Homo sapiens: one gene and its partner. The protein of the gene in region 2 purifies or fractionates together with the protein of the main gene of each other region. This does not show direct contact. Each region holds a gene or a part of one and is shown on either strand. Other genes may lie near its edges. The genes, in order: PLTP and LILRB1.

Evidence for each region.
Region 1: the proteins of LILRB1 (region 2) and PLTP purify together in Homo sapiens (co-immunoprecipitation; one large-scale study listed by IntAct). This does not show direct contact.

What each region holds. Positions count from the first base shown.
Region 1 is NC_000020.11:45,905,386-45,909,193, forward strand, and holds part of PLTP (phospholipid transfer protein isoform a precursor), read right to left. Parts: intron 2,520-3,808; coding exon 2,456-2,519; intron 2,371-2,455; coding exon 2,307-2,370; intron 975-2,306; coding exon 883-974; intron 1-882. UniProt on the Homo sapiens protein: Mediates the transfer of phospholipids and free cholesterol from triglyceride-rich lipoproteins (low density lipoproteins or LDL and very low density lipoproteins or VLDL) into high-density lipoproteins (HDL) as well as the exchange of phospholipids between triglyceride-rich lipoproteins themselves.
Region 2 is NC_000019.10:54,628,982-54,633,394, forward strand, and holds the start of LILRB1 (leukocyte immunoglobulin-like receptor subfamily B member 1 isoform 2 precursor), read left to right. Parts: upstream 1-1,502; 5' UTR 1,503-1,649; coding exon of another isoform or gene 1,650-1,652; intron 1,653-1,971; exon of another isoform or gene 1,972-1,984; coding exon of another isoform or gene 1,985-2,092; coding exon 2,093-2,126; intron 2,127-2,289; coding exon 2,290-2,325; intron 2,326-2,518; coding exon 2,519-2,806; intron 2,807-2,953; coding exon 2,954-3,256; intron 3,257-3,482; coding exon 3,483-3,779; intron 3,780-4,034; coding exon 4,035-4,337; intron 4,338-4,413.

The DNA of each region.
Region 1 (3,808 bases), on a different chromosome or scaffold from region 2:
GCAGTAACAACAGCTACTGTTTACATATATTGTGCATACTCATGCTTCTTTGCCAAGTACTCTAAGCTCTTCACATAGATCGACTTCTTTAATCTGCATAACAACGTGTGTTTTCTTACTAGATTATTTCCATTTACATGTTAGGAAACTGGCCAACTGAAAACTTATGCTTAGGGCCGTGCAGCTAGTCAGTGGCAGAGCTAGGATTTGAACTTCAGGCATTCTTTTTCTCTTTGTAGAGAAGGAGGTCTCACTATGATGCCCAAGCTGGTCTCAAACTCCTGGGCTCAAGCGATCCTCTCGCCTGGGCCTCCCAAAGTATTGGGATTACAGGCATGAGCCACTGCACCCGACTGATTCTAGCTCCCGAGTCTGCACTCTGAAACTGCTATACTCCTCTGGGAGACCAAAGGTAGTGGCTACACACTGGCTATGTGGCCTTGGGCAAGTGACGTCACCTCTATGAGTAAGTCTCCACATTCCTAAAATTAGGATGATGTTAGTACCTGACTCACAGGGTTGTGAGAGAATGAAATGAGATTATTTGTATAGAAATTTATGTCCAGCTCCTTCGGGGGAGTTGGGGAAAGGCCGTGCATGAGCAAAGGCCCTGAGGTGGGAAGCCAGGGTCCAATTTGGGAAAGAGCAGCTGCAAAGAAACAGGATGAGATATAAAAGGTGGGGCCAGGTAAGATTAACAGGGGCTCAAATGCCAGACCCAGGAGGCTGAACCTAATTCTGTAGTAACAGGGAGCCATAGCATTCTCAGTAATGGGAGTGGCCTCATCAGAGCTGTGCTTTAAGAAGTAAAATCTTGCAACTTAGCAGAGAAAGAGGTCTTGTTAGGAAGTCAGAGGTCATACACCAGCCCAAGCAGCTCACCCGGAAGTCCATGTCCAGGTTGCTGGTGGAAGCCACAGGATCCTTCATGAGGGAATAGTCAATGCCAACAAGCTCGTCCACAGAACTGCGCACTGCAGGAAGGGGCTCAAGTCACTCACGGCTGTGTGATGTGGGATAAGGTGCTTAACCTCTCCAGGCTCAGAGGCCCACCCATAAAATGAGGATACATCCTTCACAGGGTTGTCATGAGGGTCAAATTAGTTTTATGTGGAAAGCACTTAGGGCCTGGTGTGTAGTTAGGTGCTCATTAATGTTAGTTATTATTATTACTACCACTATAGAGGTTTCAAAAAAATAACTAAACAAGATGGCATGGGGGGGCCGCGCATGGTGGCTCACACCTGTAATCCCAGCACTTAGGGAGGTCAAGGCGGGCGGATCACCTGAGGTCAGGTGTTCGAGACCAGCCTGGTCCACCACGGTGAAACCCCGTCTCTACTAAAAATACAAAAATTAGTTGGGCATGGTGGTGGGCGCCTGTAATCCCAGCTACTCAGGAGGCTGAGGCAGGAGAATCGCTTGATCCTGGGAGGTGGAGGTTGCAGGGAGCCAGGATTGCACCACTGCACTCCAGCCTGGGTGACAGAGCGAGACTCCATCTCAAAAAAAAAAAAAAAAAAAAAAGATGGCATGAGGTTCCTTTCCCTTGGTTTCTCCTACCTCCTCCTTCGCTTCCCATGCCTGTGTGTTAGGTGTGATGGGAAAATACCTTTGCCCCACAGTAGACAGAGGTCATGGCTTAGAAAAAGGGAATTCATGGCCAGGCACAGTGGCTCATGCCTATAATCCCAGCACTTTGGGAGGCCAAGGTGGGCAGATCAGGAGGTCAGGAGATCGAGACCATCCCGGCCAACATGGTGAAACCCCGTCTCTACTAAAACACAAAAAACTAGTTGGGCATGGTGGTGCACGCCTGTAGTCCCAGCTACTCGAGATGCTGAGGCAGGAGAATTGCTTGAACCCGGGAGGTGGAGATTGCAGTGAGCTGAGATCGCGCCACTGGACTCCAGCCTGGCAACAGAGTGAGACTGTAAGACTCCGTGCAAAAAAAAAAAAAAAAGAAAGAAAAAGAAAAAGGGAATTCATGTTAATTGAGCACCTATTAGATGCTAGGTGATGAAGACAAATGGGATGCCAGTGATCAGCATGCACATATTGAGGACCTTGACAACTATTCTCTCAGATAATCCTCACAGCAACCCCAGGAGGAGGCACTGCCAGCCAAGTGAGGAAACAAGCACTTTGCCCAGACAGAAATGAGCACTTCACCCAAAATCGCACAACAAGTCAGCTCCAGGGGCCACATTTGAACCCAGGACTGTTCAACAGCAGGGCTCGGAAGGGGCCTGCTCTGAGGTGCTGCATGACAGCTGCACACCCAGACTCACCCGCCACCAACTCACCAGGCACGGTGTCCAGGAGGGAGTTGAGCAGGACCGTCCCTGCGTGGTAGAGGACAGGGCAGATCTGCGAGGTGGGAGCCAGAGTCAGGGCCTTCTCAAAGTGAGAGCATGCCCACCCTTGCCACCCTGCGACCTGTCGCTGCCCACACCTGCTGGTTGAGGAGGAAGCGCATCCCTGAGGTGATGAACGTGGAGAGAAAATCATACACCTTCCTGTGAGGAGAGGAGAGGCCGGATGAGCCCAGAACCTGCCTCCACCCCAGTCCAGGTCCAGGAGAAATCAGTGACTAGGGAAATAGTGGCAGTAGGAGTCCTCAGCTTCAGCCTGAATAACAGCTCCTCCACGTAGGTTTTCCAAGAACCAGGCCCAAATTCCCTCTCCAGTCTAATTCTCAAGACCTCCTGACCTACTCTCTGGTCCCATCAGTCAAATGAATCCACCCACATTGCCTCAAACCCACTCTGAGCATCCCCACATCCATCGGCTTACTGATGCCCTCCCTTCCGCCCTCTGCATTCCTACTCTGTATTTTCCCATCTGAGCTCAGATGCTTCCTCTTCCAGGCAGTCTTCCCAGATTCCCCTCCTCTGAATCCCCAAAGCATTTTCTTAGTCCTTCTCTCCAGGCCCTGATATCAAATGTTTTTTGCTCCAGATAGGCTCTGAGCTCCTTCCTGCATCCTCAGGGACTGGCATACACTTTGTTTGATGAATAAATAATACTGACAGTGTACCAACACCAGGTTATAATCCATCATCTTCTCTCCCCCATCCTCTTCCAGAACAAGAACAATATCCCCTTCTCAGCAGCAAAAATAAAAAAATAGGCCGGGCACAGTTGCTCAGGCCTGTAATCCCAGCACTTTGGTAGGCCGAGGCGGACAGACCACCTGAGATCAGGAGTTTGAGACCAGCGTGGCCAATATGGCGAAACCCTGTCTCTACTAAAAATACAAAAAAAGTAGTTGGGCATGGTGGTGCATGCCTGTAGTCCCAGCTACTTGGGAGGCTGAGGCAGGAGAATCGTTTGAACCCAGGAGGTGGAGGTTGCAGTAAACCGAGATGGCGCCACTGCACTCCAGGCTGGGTGACACAGTGAGACTCCCTCTCAAAAAAAAAATTATTATTTTTGTTATTATTATTTAGAGATACCAATTATTGAGAATCCAGTACATGGCCAAATGTGCATATCAGATAGTCCTCACAGTTACTCTTATCTAAGTGGCCAGCACTTAAATATACATTTATCATATGCCAGGTGCTGTTCTAAATTTTTTTTTTTTTTTTTTTTTGAGATGGAATCTTGCTCTGTCACCAGGCTGGAGTGCAGTGGCACGATCTCAGCTCACTGCAACCTCCGCCTCCCGGGTTCAAGCGATTCTCCTGCCTCAGCCTCCCACGTAGCTGGGACTACAGGCACGTGCCACCACGCCCAGCTAATTTTTGTATTTTTAGTAGAGATGGGGTTTCACCATGTTGGCCAGGATGATCTCGATCTGTTA
Region 2 (4,413 bases):
ATCACACTTCCCTCTCCGGACACACTGTGGCTTGCCATGCCATGCACTCCAGATTGTAATCCTTGCTTCTCACTCCCAAATAAACTCAAAATCCAGACAACCCTGGAGCAACGCAGCCTTGAATTCCTGGGGTCTCTTATATGCACACTTTTTTCAACCAAACGGGGGTCAAAACTGTAGCATTTGTGGGATGCAAGACTTGTGTATATGAACGGCAGACTTTTCCTATATGCAGGCCCAGCAGAGACAATGTCGGGGCTGGAGTACGAGCAGGTGTTGGTGCATGTAGCGGGTACTGAAACGAATTGCCTGTGTATCCCAAGAAACAACTCTACTGAGAGATCATATTCTCTAGGGGTTTATTTTTGTTTTTATTTTTATTTTAAGTTAAAGCTTCGGGTAGAACACCCAGTGTCTCCTTGTCCATCTGAAGAAGATGCTGCTATGTGGAAGCACATCCTTGAGATCCACAAGGAGACACTGGGCAAGGAGACGAGGGTGCCCCACTGTGCAGAAGTCTCCCTAATAAATGATCTATGAACACCCTGGTGTTTAGTGCTTCTTTCTTTGGAATCCCAGCAGCTCTGTCACTGGACGGTTTGGTGCACTCCCTTGAGGGAATTCCCCTGGGCTGCTTGGGGTCCACTCCAGCCTCAGGTGTAGCTGGAGGACGCAGCCTCCCACCTTGGTCTGGAGCCCTGAGCCCCTCACTGTCATTGCAGATCCCGAGGTTCCTCTCCTGGCTCCACTCAGTGGTGGAAACCTCCACCCTAATGAGCCCTTGATGGTCCCAGGTCCCTGTGGCATCTCACCTGTGGCCTCTGTTCTTTCCTGTGGATCCATCTACACTTGGGAACTTCCACATCTCTTTTTCTGCTCATGACATTGATGCTCTGGGTATTTCAGAAATGCCCAGATAGATGGACAAATACACGTCCATCTATCCATTAGGGTCAGATGTGAGATCCAGAGTGGACACATCAATCACCTACGTAGACTGTGGAGTCCAACGCCAAGATCCTCTTATGTCCCAAACACCTCAGGTCTTACCCTGGTCTGGAAATCAGGCACAAATGAGCCCCTCCTAATGTTCCAGCACCACTGACCGTACAACCACTGTCACGAGTGGGATTTGTGACAACAGTCGGCAAAGGAAGAATCTGAGGCTCAGAGATGGTTCATTACCGCCCGAGGTCACGTAGGCAGTGGATGATAACCAGTCGTTGAATAAATATAACTCCCCCCCAACTCCCCAAATCAAAGCTCAAATATAAGTCATTGTTCCCAAAGCGTTGAACAGGGATTGAGGTGCAGAGGGACGGCCAAGTAAGCAAAGGGCACCGAGGAGGCAGGAAAGACTCAGAGATTTGTTCCCGGGGGGTGGGGTTGGACACTGTAGCAAAATATTTTAAAAAGGGGAAGTTAAGAGGGGACTATTTGGTTGAAAGAAAACCCACAATCCAGTGTCAAGAAAGAAGTCAACTTTTCTTCCCTATTTCCCTGCATTTCTCTTCTGTGCTCACTGCCACACGCAGCTCAGCCTGGGCGGCACAGCCAGATGCGAGATGCGTCTCTGCTGATCTGAGTCTGCCTGCAGCATGGACCTGGGTCTTCCCTGAAGCATCTCCAGGGCTGGAGGGACGACTGCCATGGTAAGGACCCCACAACACTGAGCTGATGGACGGCTGAAGGAGGGAGGGTGACCATGTGGGAGGCTGTGAGAAGGAAGGAGATGCCTCCGCTACCCTCGTCAGGAAGGGCAGACACAGGAAGGAACCAGTTTTATTTGCTGCTACATCCTGGCTCTCAGTGGGATGAAAACAAACCAGACAGACGGTGGCTGGGGGTCAGGAAAGGGCCCATTACCATCTGAAATGATGCAGAGGGCCTAGTGACTGCCCCCACCTCAGCCCTAATGGAATGAGAGCAAGGGTCCTGGGGAGGGCAGTTCCACTTCCTGTGTGGCTGCAGATGACAGCACCCCATGAGAAGAAGGACCCAGCCTCCGATTGGCCACACTCTGTGTGTCTCTCTATCCTGCCAGCACCGAGGGCTCATCCATCCACAGAGCAGGGCAGTGGGAGGAGACGCCATGACCCCCATCCTCACGGTCCTGATCTGTCTCGGTGAGATTTGAAGAAGGAGGGGAGCTTCTAACCTAAGAGGGACCTCACCCCACAGCCAAACTCTTGTCCCTAAGGAGACCCCAGGGGCTCACAAAGATCCCAGGGAGGGGAGGACCTGCCCAGGCTTCAGGGGGCAAATCCCTCACCGGGAACTCTCTTCCAGGGCTGAGTCTGGGCCCCCGGACCCACGTGCAGGCAGGTGAGTCTGTCCCCAGCTCTTCCAGGTCCCTCCTCCTCACTGGGGACAAGGGGCCACCCCCGTGCCGCTGGGGATGGGGAATAGCAGTTCTGGGCTGACTGATGGGGGCGTCTGGAGGGTCCTGGGCTGAGAGCTGGAATCTGCTGGGTTGGGTGGGAAATGAGTTAGAATCTGACTCCTGATTTCCTTCCAGGGCACCTCCCCAAGCCCACCCTCTGGGCTGAACCAGGCTCTGTGATCACCCAGGGGAGTCCTGTGACCCTCAGGTGTCAGGGGGGCCAGGAGACCCAGGAGTACCGTCTATATAGAGAAAAGAAAACAGCACCCTGGATTACACGGATCCCACAGGAGCTTGTGAAGAAGGGCCAGTTCCCCATCCCATCCATCACCTGGGAACACACAGGGCGGTATCGCTGTTACTATGGTAGCGACACTGCAGGCCGCTCAGAGAGCAGTGACCCCCTGGAGCTGGTGGTGACAGGTGAGCTGACACTCAGGGGTCCCAGCCCCAGACTCTGCCCTCAGGAAGGGGGACGGCTCTCAGGGGCTTCTCCCTCTCACAGCCCAGCCCTGGGGATGACGCGGGTGGTCTGAGCCACATTTAACACGGTGCCTCCTTCTCTCCTAGGAGCCTACATCAAACCCACCCTCTCAGCCCAGCCCAGCCCCGTGGTGAACTCAGGAGGGAATGTAACCCTCCAGTGTGACTCACAGGTGGCATTTGATGGCTTCATTCTGTGTAAGGAAGGAGAAGATGAACACCCACAATGCCTGAACTCCCAGCCCCATGCCCGTGGGTCGTCCCGCGCCATCTTCTCCGTGGGCCCCGTGAGCCCGAGTCGCAGGTGGTGGTACAGGTGCTATGCTTATGACTCGAACTCTCCCTATGAGTGGTCTCTACCCAGTGATCTCCTGGAGCTCCTGGTCCTAGGTGAGAAATTCACAGCATTGCCTGGAGTTCCCTGAGTCTCCAGGCAGGTGGGGAGCAGCCGCGTCTCAGGGCAGTTCCAGGTGGGATGATGTTGGGGCGAGAGGGCTCAGGGCTCCTGGGGCCAGAGACACAGGAAGATCAGCAGTGATGTGGCCCCGGGGGAAAGGGAAGATTTGTGGGGAAGCCTGAGGGTCGGCTCCTGGAAACCATGACCACCTTTTCCCAGGTGTTTCTAAGAAGCCATCACTCTCAGTGCAGCCAGGTCCTATCGTGGCCCCTGAGGAGACCCTGACTCTGCAGTGTGGCTCTGATGCTGGCTACAACAGATTTGTTCTGTATAAGGACGGGGAACGTGACTTCCTTCAGCTCGCTGGCGCACAGCCCCAGGCTGGGCTCTCCCAGGCCAACTTCACCCTGGGCCCTGTGAGCCGCTCCTACGGGGGCCAGTACAGATGCTACGGTGCACACAACCTCTCCTCCGAGTGGTCGGCCCCCAGCGACCCCCTGGACATCCTGATCGCAGGTGAGGAGCCCAGCGGGTTCAGTCAGGGACCCAGGCTCCGCACAGGCCCTGCCGGGGGAGCTCAGGTAGTGATGGCCGGGATGAGGGATGGGGGTCCCAAGGGAGGGAGAGACAGACAGAGACAGGGGATGGGCGGGGAGGGGGAGACTCAGAGAAAACAGAGACAGAGACACTGAGGGTCCCAGAGGGAGACCTGGGGAGGTGTCAGCTCAGAGCAAGGTGGGGCAGCCCCTCGCCCATCCTTCTTCTCTCCAGGACAGTTCTATGACAGAGTCTCCCTCTCGGTGCAGCCGGGCCCCACGGTGGCCTCAGGAGAGAACGTGACCCTGCTGTGTCAGTCACAGGGATGGATGCAAACTTTCCTTCTGACCAAGGAGGGGGCAGCTGATGACCCATGGCGTCTAAGATCAACGTACCAATCTCAAAAATACCAGGCTGAATTCCCCATGGGTCCTGTGACCTCAGCCCATGCGGGGACCTACAGGTGCTACGGCTCACAGAGCTCCAAACCCTACCTGCTGACTCACCCCAGTGACCCCCTGGAGCTCGTGGTCTCAGGTGGGGGCCTTGACCCTGTCCTCTCTGAGCTCAAAGTCTCAGCTCAGACCCTGCCCCAGGAGAGCTCTGGGCTGGG